Linked DNA regions of Homo sapiens: regions 1, 3 and 4 are each linked to region 2. The links come from fine-mapping of genetic effects on gene expression. A gene starts in region 2. Each other region holds a variant in brackets. All regions are shown on one strand. Distances are from middle to middle.

The links. PIP is the estimated chance that this variant, and not a neighbour inherited with it, causes the effect.
Region 1: its variant is the best candidate, but not a certain one, in a credible set for the expression of PFKM in NK cells (Gilchrist 2021, PIP 0.57).
Region 3: its variant is the best candidate, but not a certain one, in a credible set for the expression of PFKM in whole blood (INTERVAL, PIP 0.69).
Region 4: its variant is the best candidate, but not a certain one, in a credible set for the expression of PFKM in whole blood (TOPMed, PIP 0.87).

The regions. Positions count from the first base shown.
Region 1 is chr12:47,827,426-47,832,573 of GRCh38, reverse strand. LINC02354 (long intergenic non-protein coding RNA 2354) reads right to left here and starts at 3,417. Exons shown (of 3, transcript XR_007063292.1): 1 at 3,044-3,417. RefSeq lists enhancers at 493-542, 4,279-4,458. The variant C/A (reference allele first, on the strand shown) is at 2,225.
Region 2 is chr12:48,116,586-48,121,733 of GRCh38, reverse strand. PFKM (phosphofructokinase, muscle) reads right to left here and starts at 2,370. Exons shown (of 23, transcript NM_000289.6): 1 at 2,328-2,370. RefSeq lists an enhancer at 2,705-2,774.
Region 3 is chr12:48,008,373-48,013,520 of GRCh38, reverse strand. No RefSeq gene overlaps it. Among named protein-coding and RNA genes, the nearest start is that of COL2A1, 6.5 kb to the right of the region's middle. RefSeq lists enhancers at 2,174-2,673, 2,674-3,175. The variant C/T (reference allele first, on the strand shown) is at 1,932.
Region 4 is chr12:48,140,805-48,145,952 of GRCh38, reverse strand. It overlaps PFKM (phosphofructokinase, muscle), which reads right to left. Exons shown (of 23, transcript NM_000289.6): 14 at 5,082-5,148; 15 at 4,572-4,642; 16 at 4,126-4,213; 17 at 3,887-4,039; 18 at 3,007-3,171; 19 at 2,139-2,200; 20 at 1,796-1,907; 21 at 823-922; 22 at 638-743; 23 at 1-389. The coding sequence ends at 245. Among named protein-coding and RNA genes, the nearest start is that of MIR6505, 11 kb to the right of the region's middle. RefSeq lists a silencer at 2,735-2,909 and an enhancer at 2,541-3,522. The variant G/A (reference allele first, on the strand shown) is at 2,559.

The sequences.
Region 1 (5,148 bases), 290 kb after region 2:
GTGTTATTTCAAGGCCCCAGTGTGTTGTTGTGGGAAGAGAGTGGAACGGGGAGGAGCAGGAGGCCTAATGGCGCCTGTAGGTGGGGGCCCGGGTAGAGTTCCTGGGGGCGCCGTGAAGGTGATGGCCCCTGCATCTCATGTCACCTTCAGGGGGTGATGTGAAACAGCAGGTGGCCGACCACAGCCCGCCAACCCCCACCCCAAAGCAGAGAGGCCCTCATACCCGCTGAGCTCACCTCACTGTGATGCTCTGTTCCTCCTGCAGTCAGCCCTGTCCTCTGGGGGCTGTCCCCACAGGCGCCTGCCATGGCCTGCTCCTCAGCAGTAGTAGAGGAGACTATGGAGCTCCAGGAGCCTCCCATATATGGGAGGGAATCTGCAGTGAGCACCTGGCCATCACCCCTCACGGTGGGCTTTTTCCTATCAGGAGAATGCTGAGTTGATACCCACAGTGACCGCACCTGCCTTGCGGTCGGAGCTCAGTCTATTAAGTTGCCAGATAAATGCATTTGTGGCCTCTGGAAGGTTGTCAGGGCCCTTGCTATAGCTGAGACCCAAATCTCAGCTTCTGGTCAACCCTCATTCCCGCTCTCCGCAATGTTAAGACTCATTAAATGAGACCAAAACCATATATACCCATTCCACCCTACATAATCATTACCTATGACACATATTTCCTCTTCACCTTCTCCTCCATGCCTATATGTTTTTTAATACAGTTGCAATCATGGGGTATGTACCAATCTCTATTCTCTTGTGATGCTGTGTTGCATATAAACATCTTCCTAACAGCTTCATAGTTTTCTATTAAGTGGAAATATAGTATCATAATTTACCTCCACAATTTTCCAATCATAAGTGTTCAAATTGTCTCTAATTTTCTATATTATAGGCAGTGTGATGGGGGACATCATTAGGCACATACTCCGCTCCTCCTCCCCCAATTTTGACTATAGAAATCTAGTTTAGGATACACTGGGTGGGGTTATTGAGCCAAAGGGTAACAGCACATTATAGCTCTTACTATATATTGCCAAACTGATTTCAAAAGAGGTTACGCCATTACCGACAGCACACACACTTCACCGAGCTCTCGCTAATGTTTCAAAAAGGCACCTACCTTTGTCTCATTTTAATTGGCATTACTTTGAGGACGATCAGGTTGAACATACCCCTACCTCTGCTTGTGAGTTGTGTTTCCTCTGTACCAGGAGAGTCTGTTTCTGGGCTTTGAACTTTAGTCTCCACTGTTCTAGTGCTTCTTAACAGTTTGTGTGAGCTCTCTTTATAAGAATGATTTTAGGGCCGGGTGCGGTGGCTCATACCTGTAATCCCAGCACTTTGGGAGGCCGAGGCAGGCAGATTGCCTGAGGTCAGACCAGCCTGGCCAACATGGTGAAACCCTGTCTCTACTAAAAATATAGAAATTAGCCGGGCTTGGTGGCGGGTGCCTGTAGTCCCAGCTACTCGGGAGGCTGAGGCAGGAGAATCACTTGAACCTGGGAGTCGGAGGTTGCAGTGAGCCCTGATCATGCCATTGCACTCCAGCCTGGGCCACAGAGCAAGACTTCATCTCAAACAAAAACAAACAACAACAAAAAAATGATTTTAAAGCATTGTCAACTGCAACCGTGTGCGAGTCTCTCCTTCTTGATATTCTCTCCCACTTGGGATTCCGATGCACTTCCTCTTGCTTCATTGAAATCTGTGACTGCTCCCGGCCTGCTCCAGCTTCCACTCCTCGCCCATCTGAAGTCTTTGTTTTCTCAGGTTTCTGTATTTAGCCATCTTCCCTGCCCTCCCCTTCTCTCCTCTCTTCTCCCCTGCTCTTGTGGTGTCATTCATTCCTACAATTTCCTCTCTCACTGATGACCTCCAAATTCTTCCCTGAGCTCCAGATACCAACTGTCCACTCAACAACCCCCCTTGCTCATCCCACCAACACCTCAAACTCCACCTGTGCAAAGCTCCATTCTGCATTTTCCTCCAAATTTGCTTCTCCTCCCATATTCCTTAACTCAGCTACTCAAATACCTTTGGGTTTGGAGTCGCTTTTGGAAGAGGAAAGAGGAAGGTGGAGGCTAATGCGCCTGAAGAGGTAATCGGATTCTATCAACCTTCTGCTCAGAGAAGGAGCACTGGGAAGGGCAGGAGAAGGCCAGTTGTCAGGGAAGATGCTGCTCTATGCCTCAATTTCCTTGCCTGCCTGGACACTAAAACGGAT[C/A]CAGGTCTAGAGATAGATGCTTGAAACCCAAAGGGAGTGGTCACCCTCCTAGAGCAAATTAACCCTTAACACTGGCCTCACCAGCTTTTTCCTTCACCTCTTGAGCCTCTTCCCCAATAAGAGACTGGAAGGGATGAAGAAGAGGTAAAGCTATAAGTCTAAACTTGTGCTGTCCATACAGTAGCCAGTGGCCACATGTGGCTACTAAGCACTTGAAATGTGGCCAGTCAGAATTGAAATGTGCTGTTAGTATAAAATATACACTGGCTTTCAAACACTTAGTATGGAAAAAAAATGTAAAAGATTTCATTAGTAATTTTTTATTTTGATTGCATACCAAAATAATGTTTTAGATTTACTATATTAGGTTACATAAATATACTACTAAAATGAATTTCACCTGTTTATTTTTCCTTTTTTTGATGTGGCTAATAGAAAATAAGTTACATATGTGGCTCACATTCCGTTTCTATTGGACAGCGCTTATCTAGACCCTCCCAGCAGGTGAAGTGTGGGGCTCCAGGCTCGGGAGACAAGGGCAGTACATGACAGACACAGGTGCAGGCCCTACTACAGGTGTGGGCCAGCCAGAGCTCCAACCAGATGTCTCCAGACAGACACTGAAGGACAGATTCTCAGTGGCCAGCCTCACTCAGGCGAAGCAAAGCCAGGCAACATTTCCTGGATAATTCCTTCAGTCTTTGACTTCATGAGGGTCTCTGGACTGAGGCTTAGCTCTCCTGAGCTTGTCCCTGTAGATGCCCCATTATTCTGGAAAAACACTCACCCAGGACCACCCAGACCTTTGGATCCCCTCACCTTGATAGTTCATTGGAAGATTTTTCTATCACTCCACCTGGGCCAGGTCCTGGATCTCTTTCCAGAAGCCCAGAGGTGTCCTTCCTCCTGTCTAGAGCCCTCCCTCCCACGCACTCTGTCTTAGGCTTAGCTCACCACAGGCTGGGAGGGGATGAGAGATGGAGGTGTGCTCAACTTGACCTCGAACTTCCATGTACACTACCTGGGTCACAGGCACATTTTGAGCTCCATTTCTAATGCCTATAGAAGGGAACAGGAGGGGACGAGGGGTGGCAGATATACTCCATTGGGCTGCCCTTCTCTGTCTCATTCTCCTTTTCCTGTGCCCCGGCTGCGCCATTTGAGGGCACTGAAGCTGGGGCCCAGTCTGCGTGGGTCTGCCCCTCCCTCTCCTTGCCTAGATGACTCCACCTCTCCCAGGTCCTGGCTGGGATCCGAAGGCCCCAGGCAAGTGGGGGAAGGGGAGCCACTCCCACTTTCCCAGAAGCTGCTGCTGCCTCTTCCTGTTTTGCTAAAACTCTGGCTCTGGACTCAAGCAAAGAGGGGGAAGTCACCAGCTCCTGCCCCCCGCCCCAAAAGGTCAACCTTGCCCCCCTGGTCCTCTTATTTATAGCCCCCACTACCCACCACCCCCCCACCCCCCGGCCCCAGGCCCTGGCTAAGGAGCTGGATGTCTCCTCCCTCAAATAGCAGCTGTGGCCATTGCCCCAGGGATACAGCCAGATGGGCAGATCACTCCAGATGTGCAGTGTTTCGGGAGGGGAGGCCAGGCCCTTTCTGCAGTCCCTGTGGTACTCCCCGCAGCCTGGTCCTGGTTCCCCTCAACTTCAAGACAACACTTGAGGATTTCAGGAGGATCAGGAAGGTTGCACCTATTTTCCCATTTCTGTAGCCTGGCCAAGCTACCCTGTATACCCTAGAAAGGTCAGCTTGGGCGATAGGCCCTACTGGATTCATTTGCATAAATCAGCTCAGTGCTCACTTTGAGACCTCAAATTATAGAGGAAAACAGGCTTAGGGAGACAGAAGAGACAGGACACTGTCTCTCTTCTATTACTGATGTGAGCATTGGAGCTCTGTCCCTAACAGCCCAATGTGTGCCAGGCACTGTAGTTAAGTACTTCATGTCCCAATCTCATCGGTCCTCGCAAAACCCTAATATAGCAGGCACTTCATACCCTAATCTGCAGATGGGAAACCAAGACTCCTCAAGGTTAAATAATATACGTAAGGTCAAGCAGTGGGGAAGCAACAAGCTCCAGCCCAAGCAGCTCGACACCAAATCCTTGCTCTTAACCACAGTACAACACCTCCTCACTCTGTCCATTCTTCTGGGTACTTTTAAATGATCTCTTTTTTTCTTTCTTTCGTTTTGAGGTGGAGTCTCACTCTGTCACCCGGGCTGGAATGCAGTAGCACGATCTCAGCTCACTGCAAACTCTGCCTTCTGGATTCAAGCAATTCTCCTGCCTCAGCCTCCGGAGTAGCTGAGATTACAGGTGCCTGCCACCACGCCTGGCTAATTTTTGTGTTTTTAGTAGAGACGGGGTTTTGCCATGTTGGCCGGGCTGGTCTTGAACTCCTGACCTCAGGTAATCTGCCCACTTCAGCCTCCCAAAATGCTGGGTTTACAGGTGTGAGCCACCACGCAGGCCTAAATGATCTCTTAAAAGCTCAGTGCAGGGGGCCAGGCATGGTGGCTCACACCTGTAATCCCAGCACTTTGGGAGGCCGAGACAGGTGGATCACCTGAGGTCAGGACTTCAAGACCAGCCTGGCTAACATGGTGAAACCCTGTTTCTACTAAAAATACAAAAAAATTAGCCAGGTGTGGTGGTGTGTGCCTGTAATCCCAGCTACTCGGGAGGCTGAGGCAGGAGAATCGCTTGAACCCGGAAGGCAGTAGTTGCAGTGAGCCGAGATTGCATCATTGCACTCCAGCTTGGGCAACAAGAGCCAAACTCTGTCTAAAAAAAAAAAAAAATGCTCAGTGCAGGGAACCCTGGAGCCCAGGACTCAGGGCCTGCCCAAGGGAGATGTCTGCACATTGTCTCTGCCTCCTCTGCCTTCCCACCCCTAGCCATTTAGACCAAGCTGGAGTGAGG
Region 2 (5,148 bases):
CAATAGCTGGTTTCCCTGTGCTTGTGTTCCTTTCTTCACTCTATTAGACACACAAAATAAACCTTCATAGGAAGGTCATAGGTCCCTAGGCTTCAGTGGAGATGTGTATTCATTCACAGGAACCCAAGTTTTACGGGCAGCTTGTGCTTGCTTCTACCCTGCATTTGGAGAACTCAGGGTAGCTGCCTATAGAGACATAAGTCACATAAACACCCAAATCCACACAAATAATAAAATAATGCAATGAGACATATATGAAGACATACATTCACAAACATGCATTGTGTTAACAGACAGAGATTAATGAACGTACTACATATAATCAGTACTAACAAATAAGGTCCCAACTTGTTGGGTTGGCATTCGAAGCTTCTACAATTTAGCCCTTGCATATAGCTTCAACTGTTGGTCCTATAGATTCTCTGCTCCATTGTCACCTGAACATTACTTTGCTCTTCCCACTTTAGTGCCTGGGCACACTGCATCCCTTGTCCAGGTGGCTACCCTGGCCCTTTCCACAGATTCACATCCCATTCCATCATTTAAGACCAGTGATAGTTGTACCCTTATTAAACCTTCACTGATTACCACAGGTCAAGGAAACCTTCTTTTGGACTTCCTCTAACCACATGTTGTCTAAACTGGATCACTGCCTCCCAGGTTCAAGTGATTCTCCTGCCTCAGCCTCCCGAGTAGCTGGGATTACAGACATGCACCACCACACCCGGCTAATTTTTGTATTTTTAATTGAGACGGGTTTTCACCATGTCGGTCAAGCTGGTCTTGAACTCCTGACTTCAGGTGATCCGCCCACCTTGCCTCCCAAAGTGCTGGGATAACAGGCATAAACCACCATGCTCGGCCTGCTTTATGTGGCATTTTAATAGTTTCGTACGCACTGATAAGAGGGTTGGACTAGATCAGGGGTCAGCATACAACAGCCTGTAGGCCAAATCCAGCCCTTCTCACATTTTTGTATGGCAGTAAGCTGTGAAAGGTTTTTATATTTTTTAGTGGTTGCAAAAAGTACTTCATGACATGTGAAAAATGTTAAGTTCAAATTTCAGTATGTGCACTACCTTCGTTCATTCACGTATTATCATGGATGTTTTTGTGCTACAACAGCAGAATGGATATTGTGACAGAGACTCATAAGCCTGCAGTTTAAAATATTTACTATCTGGTCTTTTACAGACGAAGTTTGCCAACCACTGGACTGGATGGCTGCTAAAGTCATTTTTCCTAACTAGACTGAGAACTCCTCCAGGGCAGGGATCATGATCATTTTTAAAAACTCTCCCACAGCTCACTAAAGACTTGCAAAGTCTATGCACATTACAGGACCCCAATAAATACTTGTTGAAAACGTTAATGAACTGATGAACTACATGAAATACAAATATATGAAAAATGTAAAATCGGCTTAGATACAGATATACCTCCATATTCTACTTTAAAACACACTTTTAACTTGGACTTGAGAAATCATATAGTGACAAACAGTGAAAGGAACATAGAGACACGCGTGACTAGAGACGCTCTTATTTAACTGGAATGTTCATGTCCAAATTTCTGCTGTTTTCCAAAAAGAAAGATTAAGTGACTAGGGCAAATAGGAAGGCAAAAAGGTGGAAAGGAAAAAACAAGACATCTGGGTATGCTGATCCCTTTCCTCCCGTTTTTTCTTCTCATTCACTCTTGGAGCTCATGACGGGGGCAGAATCCCACACAGAGCTCTTCCACCCCTGGAAGCGTCAGTGAGGGAGAAAATTCGCCATAACAAGAGGAGTTTAAGAGTGCTGACCTGTAAAAACCGCTCATATTCTTCTCCTGAAATCTCTAAGACAGTTATAGAGGCACAGGACACAGAAATTCATGCAGACTCATGTATAAGCATCCCTTACAGACCCACAATGACACGCACGTAGACAAAAACAGACAGATATTAAAACATATCTCTAAAATCACGTGCGTATATAAGCACGCGGCAGGGAGGAACAGAAAAGCAGCATCATAGGAGCACTGATTTGAATTGGGTGAGTGCCAGGGTAGGGTCAGGCAGCCAAGGGCAACCCGTCCGAGCCCCACCCACCCATCCCAGATTCCTGGGGAATGCAGCTGAGCCTGCAAGCGGAGGGGACTGGCCAAGGGGCTAGGATCCTTCACGACTGCCCTGCCCATCCCCCTCTCGGCTCCAGCTTAGGATGCCGTATCTCTTCTTTTCCTTTCTGCTCCTTTCAGTTCTCCCTACCGCCTGCTCCCGGCCCATACCTTCCCACCTCACTCCCAGCTCTCCCCCTTGCTCTTCACTCAATGGCCCCTCTTGCCTTTTAGTCTTAGCTCTCCTCCGCCGCTGCTTTCTTGCAGATTGTCCTTGGGAAAGGGGGGAGGGGTGATGGACGAACATGGGGAGGAGCCAGGTGGAGGCAAAGAGGGAGGGGGAAGGAGGAGAGGCTTCCCAACCTCCACTAACAGATGCTGACAAGAAGGCTCCGCCTCCTCCTGCTTGCCTTTCTCCTCCTCTTCCTCCTCCCCCTAAGTACTCAGCTCAGATATGGCAGCGGCTTAGTTCCTTCACTCCCCAGAGTCCTGGGGTCCTCATATCTATCTCGAGAGCCATCAGCATCTTTATTTAATGGGAATAATAAATTATTTCGTTGCTTCTCTTGTTTTCAACACAGAACTTTTTCCTAGTCCAGACTGCCTGAGACACCTTGCATTCCAACATCTTCAGCAACTGCTAATAAAACCTGCCCCTGTGGCCCTCTATCCGTCTTTAAGCAAACATTTCTTGGGAGTCTGTGTGCTAGATTTTGCATTAGGTGCCGAGAGGTTTAAAAAAAATAAATATAGTCCCTGCCTTTGAGGAACATTGAATTATGACATCTTCTATAGAATAGCCTCAAAAACTTCTTTTACATTTACATTACCTTTCTCAGAGAAAGTACAGAAAAGCTAGCTATTTGGAATGAAAGTGTCAAGAGGGAAGGGCGTGTCTGTGAGGCCACTTCTCAAGCCTGCAGTGGGGAGGGATGGGGGCGGGATTCTGGCAGTGAAGCAAACATATAAATTGGGCTTCACAGCAAACAGGATCCACTCTGGAAAAAGGGTCAGATGCTCCCAGAGCAAGAGGTGCATCCATTACTCAAGTCTCACCTTCCCTTTGCTTCATTGTCTCCACAGTCGGGTCTCCTCTTGCTTTTACCACTGCCCTCTTCCTCTTGCTTACTTGTATCTCTACCTCTGCACATTCTGGCACAAACAATACAAATGCAAGTGACTAGGAGATAAAACCCCATTTGACTACACAAAATAAAAGCATTTGTTCTCCAAATTATACCATCAAGAAAGTGGAAAGACAACCCACAGAATGGGAGAAAATATTTGCAAATCATGTATCTGATAAGGGGCTGGCATCCAGAATAAATAAAGAACTCATTTGCAACTCATTAAGAATGTAAACCAAAAATAAAATTATAAGCCCCTCAACCATCTGAATAGACCCCTCCTCTCAGTCAAGGGTATTCCAAAGTTAATCTGAAAAACTAGTTCAGACGTTGATGGAAAGGGGAAGCCAGACACACTTCATTATATGCTCCTCCCTTTTGGAATTACTGATAGAACAGACTCTTTAAGTCTGATAAGAAACATTTACAATCTATTCTCTGAAACCTGCTACCTGGAAGCTTTGTCCACCTGATAAAACCTTGGTCCTCACAGATTGCTTTTCTATTAAGTCTTTGGACAATAACTTAACTCTTTTCACCAATTTCCAATCAGAAAATCTTTGAATCTACCTATGACCTGGAAGCCCCGCTCCCCCCTCCCTGCTTCCAGTTATCCCGCCTTTCTGGACTAAATGAATGTACATCTTACATATATTCATTGATACCTTATATCTCCCTAAAATTTATAAAACCAACTTGTGGCCCGACCATCTTGAACACATGTTCTCAGGATCTCCTGAGGGCTGTGTCATGGGGGAGCTATTGGTCACTCGTATTTGGCTCAGGATAAATCTCTTCAAATGTTTTACAGTTTGACTCTTTTCAGTGACAATAAAAAGAAAATACCTCAATTTAAAAATGGGCAAAAGAGTTGACCAAAGAAGATATACAGGTGGCAAATAAACATGAAAAGATGTCAACATCATATGTCATTAGCGAACTGCAAATTAAAACAGTGAGACACCACTACACACCTATTAGAATGATTAAATGATTAAAATTCAAAAATCCAAATGCTAATGAGAATGTGGAACCACTGGAACTCTCATTAATTGCTGGTGGGAATGCACAATGGTACAGTCACTGTAGAAGACAGTTTGACAGTTTTTTACAAAGCTAAATATTGTCTTACCACATGATCCAGCAATAGCACTCCTAAGTATTTAGCTGAATGAGCTGAAAATTATGTCTGCACAAAAAACCTGCACATGAATGTTTATAAAAGCTTTATTCATAATTGCCAAAAGCTGGAGGCAACCAAGATGTCCCTCAAAAGGTGAATAAACAAACTGTGATACAGCTATACAATGGAATATTTTCCATCAATAAAAAATTATCAAGCCAGGAAAAGACATAGTGAAACGGGCCAGTGTGAAAAGGCTGCATACTGTATGATTCCAACTGTATGACAGTCTGGAAAAGGTAAAACTACGGAGACAATAAAAATATCAGTTGTTACTGGGGCTTGGGATAGAGAAGGAGAGATTAATAGGTGGAGCACAGGGGATTTTAGGGGCACTAAAATGATTCGGTATGATGCTATAACAGATACATGACATACATTTGTCATGACATTATGCATTTGTCAAATTCATAGAACTATACAATCCAAAGAGTAAACCCTAATGTAAACTATGGAACTTAGCTAATAATAATGTATAAATATTGGGTTATCAATTATCACAAGTGTACCACACTAATGCAAGATGTTAATAAGTAGGGAAAACTGGCCAGGCACAATGGCTCACACCTGTAATCCCAGCACTTTGGGAGGCCAAGGCAGGTGGATTGTTTGAGCTCCGGAATTTAAGACCAGACTGGGCAACATGGTGAAACCCCGTCTCTACAAAAATACAAAAAATTAGCCAGGTGTGGTGGCACATGCCTGTAGTCCCAGCTACTCAGGAGGTTGAGGCACAAG
Region 3 (5,148 bases), 110 kb after region 2:
GAAAAGGAGAATGGTGTGATGTTTGCAGTTAGGTTGCATTTGCCAAGTCAGCACTCCTGGGCACTTTGCCTGCAATTGTGACCCTCTGTCACAGGTGAACTCTGTTTTATCTGAGGACTGAGTCTGAATGACCTGGCACGTGTACTTTTCTTTTTTCTTTTTCTTTTTTTTTTTTTTTCAATTAAGATTTCTTTCTTTTTTTCTAAGACAGGGTCTTGCTCTGTCACCTAGGCTGGAGTACAGTGGTACAATCATGGCTCATTGCAGCCTCAACCTCCCGTGCTAAAGTGATCCTCCTGCCTCAGCCTCTCCAGTATCTAGGGCAACAGACATGAATGCCACACGCAGCTAAATTTTTAAATGTTTTTGTAGAGCTAGGGTCTTGCTATATTACCCAGTCTGGTCTCGAACTCCTGGGCTCAAGCGATCCTCCCACCTCAGCCTCCCAAAGTGCTGGGATTACAGGCATGAACCACCACACCCAGCCTCACTTTTCTATTTAAATACATCTTCCCTACAAACTAGAAACTTTTATTAATACAACTAAGTACAAAGATCATGGAGAATCAGGATAGGTAATTTAGAATTAAAGTTACAAAACTCCAAGCAAGATTTAAAGAAACAGAAACACCTATATACAATCAGGTATCTTTTTCACTCACTTTAAACTGTTTCTGACTACAAAATATAGTATTGGCACTATCCAGACATGAGAAGGACCAGCTTTTCCCTCTTATTTTTTTGAGTTAGATCCTTTAGAGCTTCTTATCAAACCAAATTTAAAAGGCCTTGCAGACAGTTTTTTCCCAAATAGTAATCTTCCCACAGTTATATCATACTTATCTTTTTGTTTAAGCTGGTAACTAATGAGAAGGCCAATACCTATCCAAGCCTTCCGAGCCTTTATGATCAATTTAGAAGTTCCTGTTCTTCTTAGGGAAAACTTGTGCTGAAGAATTGGGGCCACTTATCCCCAGTGCCAAGTTTTTTTTTTTTCCAGGTAATATTGAAAGTTTCTTAATCTAGTTTTTATTCCTAACAGATTTTAAAACAATTAAGATGTTTTCAGCGCTATACCTTAAATTCCAGGATATTCATCAATCAACCTAGATCGTATCAGCTATAATCCAAACTCATGCAAACATAACTTAAGACAAAAATTTTTATGAGACCCAAATTAAAAACAGATAAATGATATTGTCTATTTGTGGTACGGCAGGTGTGTGCAGGAAGGGTAAATAAATCAGATGCAGACCAAGAAGAGTAGTACTTGCAATAATAAACATTTACTCTAAGCCTCCCGTGTAAAGCATTCTCCCGAGGCTTTATGTTTGTTACTTCATTTACTGCTCACAACAAGCCCATGAGTAAATTACTATTATCCCTGTTTTACCGATTACTTCTCTGATGCTCAGAGAAGCGAATTCACTTGCTCAAGAGGACGGAGCCAGGAAGTGCAGTTGCAGCATCTAATCTGGGGAAATTAAAAGGCAGCCAACCCTCACTTCTTTGTATTTTTACCCAGGAAAGCATTAAGAATGTGGTAAGTTTCTAGGCACTTTTTTTTTTTCTTGAGACGGAGTTTCGCTCTTGTTTCCCAGGCTGGAGTGCAATGACACAATCTCGGCTCACTGCAACCTCCACCTCCCAGGTTCAAGCGATTCTCCTGCCTCAGCCTCCCAAGTAGCTGGGATTACAAGTGCCCGCCACCATGCCCGGCTAATTTTTTTGTATTTTTAGTAGTTTCTCCATGTTGGTCAGGCTGGTCTCGAACTCCTGACCTCAGGTGATCCGCCCGCCTCGGCCTCCCAAAGTGTTGGGATTACAGGCGTGAGCCACCGCGCCCAGCCTCTAGGCACTTTTAGGATAAAGATGGGCCTCTTGACAGGCTTGCATGGGAGGAAACTGGGGCACATGCAGGATTCTTTCCT[C/T]CTATCCCCCATGAGAAAGAAGCTCATATACCACTGGCTAAGGATTCCAGAGTCGGGTCTCCGCGAGGCAAGGAGCAAAAGCCATTATGAGGACCTCGCTGGTAGCCCAGTTAAGCTGCCAGACGAAACTCACGATTGGAGGTACAGTTACAATTGCAGAGGAAGGCAGGTCTCTGCAGATCCTAAAGATTAGTTACACCATGGGACAGATGTGACCAAGCTGCTTTCACTACCCAAGCCTGTGTCAGGAAGAGCTATTTTCAGTGAAAGGGCAGAACAGAGCGCTTCTGTCCATGACATTGTATTGTGCTACAGCACATCATAGAATGCCACATGACATCACAATATATTATAACTTGTTTACCTTACAGTTTGGCTTTTTGTGTATCCCCCGAGAGGTAGTCATCTCCTTGCATGTAGGATTCATGTCTAATAGAGCTTTCTTTTGTCCCTCCATACCACCTAGCAAGTGCCTGGCGCATAGCTTGTGCTCAACACAGGGGATGAAGAAATGCTGGCCGAGGAATGAGAGGGGGAATGGGACAGGAGGGAGGATAGAGTAAGGGGAGACAGTCGAGCAGGACCCCAAGATTTTGCACCCAGGATTCTGGGAGGGAGAGTGTCAAGGGCAGTGGGTGGGTGATCAGCTAAGGAGCTGGCCTGGAGGCTGGAGTGGAGATCGGGGCGGTGCAGAACACAATGGGGCCCTGGCTGCCTCCGGATAGGTGCTGGGTGTGGGGACAGCTGAGGGGCCCTCATGGGGAAGGGCAGCATGCACTGTCCTGCTCCCTCTCAAGGTTGTTTTTGGCAAAGGAGCTCACTAGAAACTTACCACATGTATGTTCCCTGGGGCTTTTCAGGGACTTCCTAGAGGGCAGGCCCACTGCCCCCCGCCCCCCGCACTGGAGCAGGATAAACTTGGTTTGCAGGGGCCTGGCTTTCTCTGAGGTGGCATCTACCCTACTAGTCCTAGGGACATCATAGTTAGCTCCTTGCTTTCCTTGGTATGTCCCACCTAGGAGGAGTTCATCAGTCAGGAGTCCCTGGGGGGCAGGGCTAAGGGGCCACCACGGGAAGGAGGCTCAGGTGGCTGACTCCGCTCCCCTGCTGGCTCTGCCCTGACACTGTCTCCATGGAATCCAGGGCTCCAGTTCTAATCATGGGTCAGTCTCTTCCTTGCACTGAGCCCAATTCCTACTGGAAAAAAGGGACATAGGAAAAGTGACCCACCACCTGCTTTAAAAAAAGACCGCAGGAGGCTTTACAAAGTCATGCATCCATCATCTCCTTTAGGGTCCTCCATCCATTCCTCTCCTTAAAACTCACTTCTCCTTTCTGCCACCTTTAACTCAGGCTCCTCCTTGCCTTGTCTGCCTCCAGTGCAGGCCTGAGCCCAGTCATGTGTGACTGCAGACCATGCAGACCACACCCCTCTGTTAGCCAGGGTCGTATGGAACTTTCCGTGGACCAAGATTTAGACCAGCACATCTCCAGCCTTCATGGGCATATGAGTTATCTGGAGAGTTTAGTAAAAGCCAACTCTGATTTGGTAGGTTCGGCTTTTCCAACAAGATCCCAGGGTAGGTTGATGCCGCTGGTCCATGGACCACATTTACTATGTGACCGCACTGTGCCAAGCAGGCTTTGCAGGGGAAAAGTTAAGTGTATTAAGTTATGGCCCCTGCTCTCAAGGAGGCATGTGAATAGACTCACATGGGATTTCTTCACATGTTTGAGGGAGGAAGGGATGGATGGATGGACAGATGGATGGATGATGATCTAAAGGCATAACTCCATAGAACTGGCCATACCCAAATGCAATAGGAGTTCAAGGAAGGGAGAGAGATGGGGAGAGAGAGTTCCACCTGTCTCGTGGGTTGTTGACCTCTCAAAGGGTATCCCTTGGAACCCCCATGTTGTGTTATTGCTTGAGAAGTGCCTGGAACAGATGCTCTGTGGCTGTTGGGAATGGTTGTGGTTTACTGTAGAACCATTTGCTTCACATGGAACTTCTGCTGGGAGTGCTCAAACATCTCTGCATTTAAGCATTTGTGTTCTTCCTAGAGCTCAGAACCATCAAGAGCTGATGAGAGAGACAAATGCTCCTTAAAGGCAGAAAGCTACCCACCTTAAGAAAATGCAATATTTCGCACGACTTTTGTTGTCTTTGTTTTTAAAGTGAAATGGGAAGATCATTTCTGTATAAAAATACAGACATTTCTTCAAAATGTAAGCCTTTAAAAAGCCCAGACACCTTTATCTTTTCCCGCAAAGGTCTAGCTAGTAGGAGGTAAGAAGAAGAGGGGAAAGTGAGAAGAAACGTAGATCTGAGCCTGACTCGGTGGCATTCAAGGAGTCCTCCATGTCTGGCCTTGCCTTCACCCCTTACTGCCATGTCTTATTCCCAGGGCCCTGCAGATGGCTCCACATTGTCCTGGGGCCACTGCCATGTCTTCTGGTGCATCTGCCCTTCGTTGCTTCCATTTGGGAGCCATCCTGCCCTCTCACTGTACCTCTGCATTTCAAACCCCCACCCATGCTTGGAGACATGCTTCTCTTAGGAAACCTCCCCCCAGCTTACTCCATGGCTTCCAGAATGCCATTCTTTCTTTCCTTTCTTTCTGTTTCTTTCTTCTTCTTTTTTTTTAGGGGGTTGGGGAGAGTGGGATACCTTTTTTGCAGCATTTTGTACAATCATTTTTTTCCTATTTCCCCTACAGATGCAGAGGTGGTATCTAAATCCTCTCTGTATCCCCATCTCATACAGAAGTAGGTGCTCAGTACGAGTCCTAAGCTGAATTTGTATGGCACTAGGACAGGATGGAGGAGACTGGGTGGGATTCTTGGTGCTATTTGCATTTGAGAATACATAGTAACACATTTATGCTCCTATGGAATGGAATGTACACCATAAATCTGGAAAACCCTATCCTGGACAGTCTTGATTCTGTTACTCTGCCCCCAAAATGCCAAAGGAAAACATAAACACATCTTGAAAGACTGTCTGAACGGAGCCCAACCAACAGAAGCTGAGTGTCACTGAGTAAGCTGGGCTCACCACCCCCAGGCACGGCTGCTGTGTGAAGTCTGTGCATTCACCACCTGCCATATTTGGGGTGGGCTTACCTCTTTGGAATGTGAATCCTTCTTCACTTTATCACTATTTTTAAATGGGATTTGTGTAGAGGAAGAGAAAGATATCTTTTCTTTACAGCCT
Region 4 (5,148 bases), 24 kb before region 2:
CTAGAGGTGCCCAGCCTTGTGTGACAGATAAAGCTGGGGCAGAAGTCATGTTAAATTCTACCTAAAAGGAGCTCCCACCCACTGCCTGCTCCTCCAGCTCCTGGCCAGAACTGGTCATGGCTGCAAGGTACAGAATAAAAGGAAACCTAATGAAAAAAACAGCTAAAACACTGAGAAGATGTGGACTTATTAGGGTGTGAGCTGACCATGATCAGGTAATCTATTCCCCTCACTCCAGAGAGGTTTAGACGGCAGCTTCCCCGGACCGCTTCCGGGTGATGTGCTCCAGGTGGGCATGGTCTGAAGTGTCCAAGTCAATCTCGTACTTGGCTAGGATTTTGAGGATGGGCCTCAGTTTCAGCCACCACTGTTCCTTGGGGATTCGATGCCTACAGAGGAATGAGGTAGATGATGATATAATCTTTTAGCACCCCAATCAACTTCTACCAAAGGTTTATAGGAAGAAGTTAGACAGAAGAGGTTAGATTTAGGACATGTGCATCACATCTGAAATGGGTAAGAATACAGGTGTTACTCCTTAAAAAAAAAAAAGAATTAAAGACAGTGAACAGGTTGAGGACAGTAGAGCTTGAAACTACCAGGGAAAAGAACCACTCCAGGAAGCAGATGTACTCACTCAAAATCTGTCTGGTCCTTCAGCTCAGCCACTGGTTGGAAGACCAGAGCCCTCTTACGCATCCCCAGAACACAGCCCGAATCTGGAGTATTGGCAAAGATCCGCCCTGCAATGAGGGATGGGCAGTCAGCTTCTATACTGGGGAACCAGCCTCTATAGAGGGCACTCGCTCTCACCCCACCTACCATTACGGTAACTCTCTTTGATTTTCCCAGACATCCAGTTCATAGCCTTGGCGCCCATCTTAGTGGCAAAATTCCTATCAAATGGGGTTGGGCTCCCACCCTGGAGAAAGAAACATAAAAATTACAGAGGGAAGGACTCTAATGAAGTGGCAGAGATATCTAGACACACAGAGAAAAAAAGAAAGATGGGCCCCAGGCTTACAGCCCAAAACAGGAATCCAGAAGTCAAACTATGAAAGGGTGCCCTGAGGCAGTGCCAGGATCCAAGGCAAGCTGGCCCAGCAAATTTGGCCATGTATCAGATATAATAACAACTAATTAAAGATGATTGGCCCCACAATCCCCTCTTTTAGCTCCACAGCTGCCAGATCCTGTTTTAGTTTTATTGGCCAATGGGTCAGCTGCCTGCCCCTCTTCAGCCCAGCAGCTTTTGTTGATCACTGTCAATGATGACATAAAAGTGTTTTTTTTGTGGCCCAATCTGGCTGCCCTTGGTAGCACCTCAGAATTAATATAAAACATCATACAGATTTCCTTTGAATTAAGAGGAAGCAGGTGGGAAAGTGGGAATGTTTGGAGACATTTTTGTTACAATTGGGAGTGAGAGGGAGGTGCTACTGGCATCTAGTGGGTAGAGACCAGGGATGCTGTGCAACTGTCCTACAGTGCATAGAACAGCCACCCATGACAAATTATCATCCAGCCCCAAAAGGCAAAGCTGCCAAGGTTGAAAAGCCCTCCCATGAGGGCTTTTGAAAAGGATAGACCATATAATCTCTAAAGTCATTTCCAGGATAAAGATGTTTTGATTCTATGACTGTAAGAGACTGCAGGCCCATGCTCTATGATGGCACTGACAGGCTCCTCCAGAAGACTGGAAAAGGCCAGTGGAAGCCTCAGTGGCTGTTGGCAGGTATGGCTGTTGGCAGGTATGGCTGTCTGATGAAGGGCATGACTACGGTGTCTTCCCTACCTGCTGCATGTGACCAAGCACATTCTTCCTGCTGTCGAAGATGCCCTTCCCCTCCTCAGAGTACAGGTTGAAAATGAAGTCAGTGGTATAGTTCTCATTGCACTTTTCATTCCTGCCAGGTGGAGACCAAAAGCCTGTGACTCTGTGGTTGGCTTCCCATCCCCCATTTCTGCCTTTGTTCTTTCCTTTCAATTTTTATCTCCTCCAAGGATTCAAGGGATAGGCTGGCCCCCTCCCTTTATATCTACAGATTCCTCAGGGTGTCCCAACAATGGCCATTCTATGGGTTTGAGCCAAAGCTTATTTTTCTTCTTCATTTAGGAACAAACCATGGATGAGGTACCTTAACACCAAGCCCCTTTTCACAGTTGTTTTCATCTTTTGCACCAGATGTTCAACATTTGCCTGAAAATGAAAGAGTAAATCCTAAGCCTAACTGGGAATGGATAAGGTTGGGTATAAATCATCTTCCACACCACACCTCTCCAGGAAGGAAGAGACACATGGAAGAGAGTTGTTTACAATCCTGGGCCTGAACTGTGCCTAATTCCTGTAAGAAGCTCAGTGTGGACTGAAATTTAAACAATGACTCCAAATGAGACAGAACTGGAAGAGGGAGCACTACAGACAGCTGCAGTAACTGTCAGTGTTCAGCCCCTCACCCTCTCCAATCTCCCTTTCCAAGCCTTTCTGGTTCCCCTTGCCTCAGAGGGCTGACTTGTGGTCACAGTGTCAGTGTTGACACTTTATATCTCTGTTTTGA[G/A]AGAGTATCTCTCTCAAAAGCAGAATGACAGCAAGGGAAATCTGAAGGGGAGACATGATGTAGTAAAAAGATCACTGACTTTCTCAACCACTTAAACCATCTGCTCACTTAGGAGTTTAGAAAAGTTTTTTAACCTCTCTAAACTTTCTATGTTATATGGAGATAGTATCTTCTTTGCATGTCTATTGTGAAGATAAAATGCAAAAATGCCCATAAAGGGCTTAGCACCAGGTCGCCTGACTCAAAATCAGCATTCCAACAACAGTAGCTGCGGTCATGCATATGAGGTGACACCAGAGAATGCCTGCATAGTGCTCTTTCTGGTCTTCACAGGATTCTACAGACCAATCAGCTCGGTCCTCAACTTGAGCTCTCATAGTTCAGATCACTGTGGAAACAGTCTGGAGACAGGGGAGAGCTATCTAGCAGGCTCTGGGTGGCCAGCTACCTGCAGGTCTCGAATGGTGAAGGGCTCCTCAAAAATGTAGGCAGCATCGGCCCCAGCTGCCAGTCCAGCCATGGTAGCCAGGTAGCCACAGTAGCCACCCATAGTCTCAATGATAAACACCCGACGCTTGGTGCCAGCTGCTGACTGCTTGATGCGGTCACAGGTCTGCAAGGACAATGGGTTATAGTTAGAAAGACATGATCAGGGGCCTGATTCTTATCACTCTTTAATCTTTGCCATTAATTAAACCCTGGAACTATATTCTCCATAGGCTAGCAGGGCCCTTAGAGCTCATCAAGTTCTTGCATTTAGGGTAACAGGCATATTTGCCAACCTCACTGCAGAACGTCTCTCCTGGGAAGAAAGCTGTACCTATCCTTTCTACTGCTCAGAAAATTAGACTGCATGATCTCAGAAAGAAAAAAAAAAACAAACAAAACATTTGGTATTCAGGGTACTGGTGCATTTCTAGGTGAGGAAACTGAACACTTTGTCACCCAGGCTGGAGTAAAGTGGCACGATCTCTGCTCACTGCAACCTCCGCCTCCCAGGTTCAAGCAATTTTCCTGCCTCAGCCTCCCAAGTAGCTGGGATTACAGGCGCCTACCACCACACCCAGCTAGTTTTTGTATTTTTAGTAGAGATGGGGTTTCACCATGTTGGCCAGGCTGCTCTTGAACTCCTGACCCCAAGTGATCTGCCTGCCTTGGCCTCCCAAAGTGCTGGGATTAGAAGTGTGAGCCACCATGCCCAGCTGAAGAATCATTTTCAAACATTCCCATTTGCTTGATATAAAGAGTAGCTCACTGTTTGGGACCACACTCAGTTTAAGGATTATAATCCTGGCCAAAAGGGATGGGAAGTGGTGATAGGCTCTCACTGTGCAGATAGTATTGAGTGCTGTGTCAGCCCCAACGCTGAAGTCTGAGCCAGGGACATTGTTGGAGACTGTAGCAGGAATGACCACAAATGGGATGCAGAGCTCATCAAACTGCTTCCTGCCCTCCATCAGTTCCAGGCCCCCTGTGTAAGCCTAAGAAGAAGAGAGCACAAGGGCAGGATTGGGGAGAGGGAGAGGAGGTAGGAGGGAGAGAGGAAGAAATGGTGGCAGGCACTCACCTCAAAGCCCCCAATGATGACAAGGCCCTGAATGTTAAACTTAGTTATATTGGCACTGATCTGTTCAAAGCTCTTCTTGGGTAGAGTCCTAGTTGATCAGTGATGGCGGGGAGGGGAAGGGGAATTGGAATTTGGGGAAGAGACAGGAAAATTGAGGGGGAGAAAAGCTAGAGTTAGAGGCACTTTATTTTTAATTTCTTGACCTGTGCCGCCCTCCCTAGCCCACCCTCTCAGTCCTATCCAAGGATACATACTGGAGCTCTAAGTTGCCAGAGCTGCTAAAGATGTTGAGATGGGCATGTCTGCCCTCATGGCAGCAACTGTGAGGTTGAGGGTGGAGGACCCAGACAACAGGGTGGTTGAAGCAGACCATGGCATAATGAACCCACATCCAAGGGCAACTTTAAGAGGTGACTGGGAGGAGGTGCCTCTGCAGTGCTACTTACCTTTTAGTCCCAAGTTTAGAGCCACCTTGGCCAGTCCAGCCCCCAACATAGCTCCAGCCAGCTTCCTCTATCTGTGGGGATAAGCCACAGAGCTCTGCACAAGGCTAAAGCACTAGGAGGCCTGTGTGGGACTGGTGCCACTGCTTGAGTTCTAACCCTACCCCTGGATCCCCCTTGGTTGGAAAAGGTACACCAGGTATTAGCTTTTCCCCACGCACTCAACTTCTTCTACCCTTACTGCTCATTCACAAATATTAAGCATCTACCTATGCCAGGCACTGTGCTGAGCTTTGGGACAGAGAATTAAATAAGACATGTTGTTTGCAATGGTTCACTGCAGTAATTCCTGCTGTTCCTACTGCCCTAGTATTAAATATCTACTTCTGCCTGGACCCTGAGAGAGGAGAGAGAGGTAGTGAGGAACAGAGGAAGCCAAGAGAATGGACAGGTCATTCTTGCTACACTTATCTTCCCCATGACTGCTCCTAGGTCCCAGAATAGTCCCCATACCTGCCCCTTGGCCAGGCCCTCGAAACCATCATGGACAACGAGCACTCGGTTGCCCTGGATAAGGCCA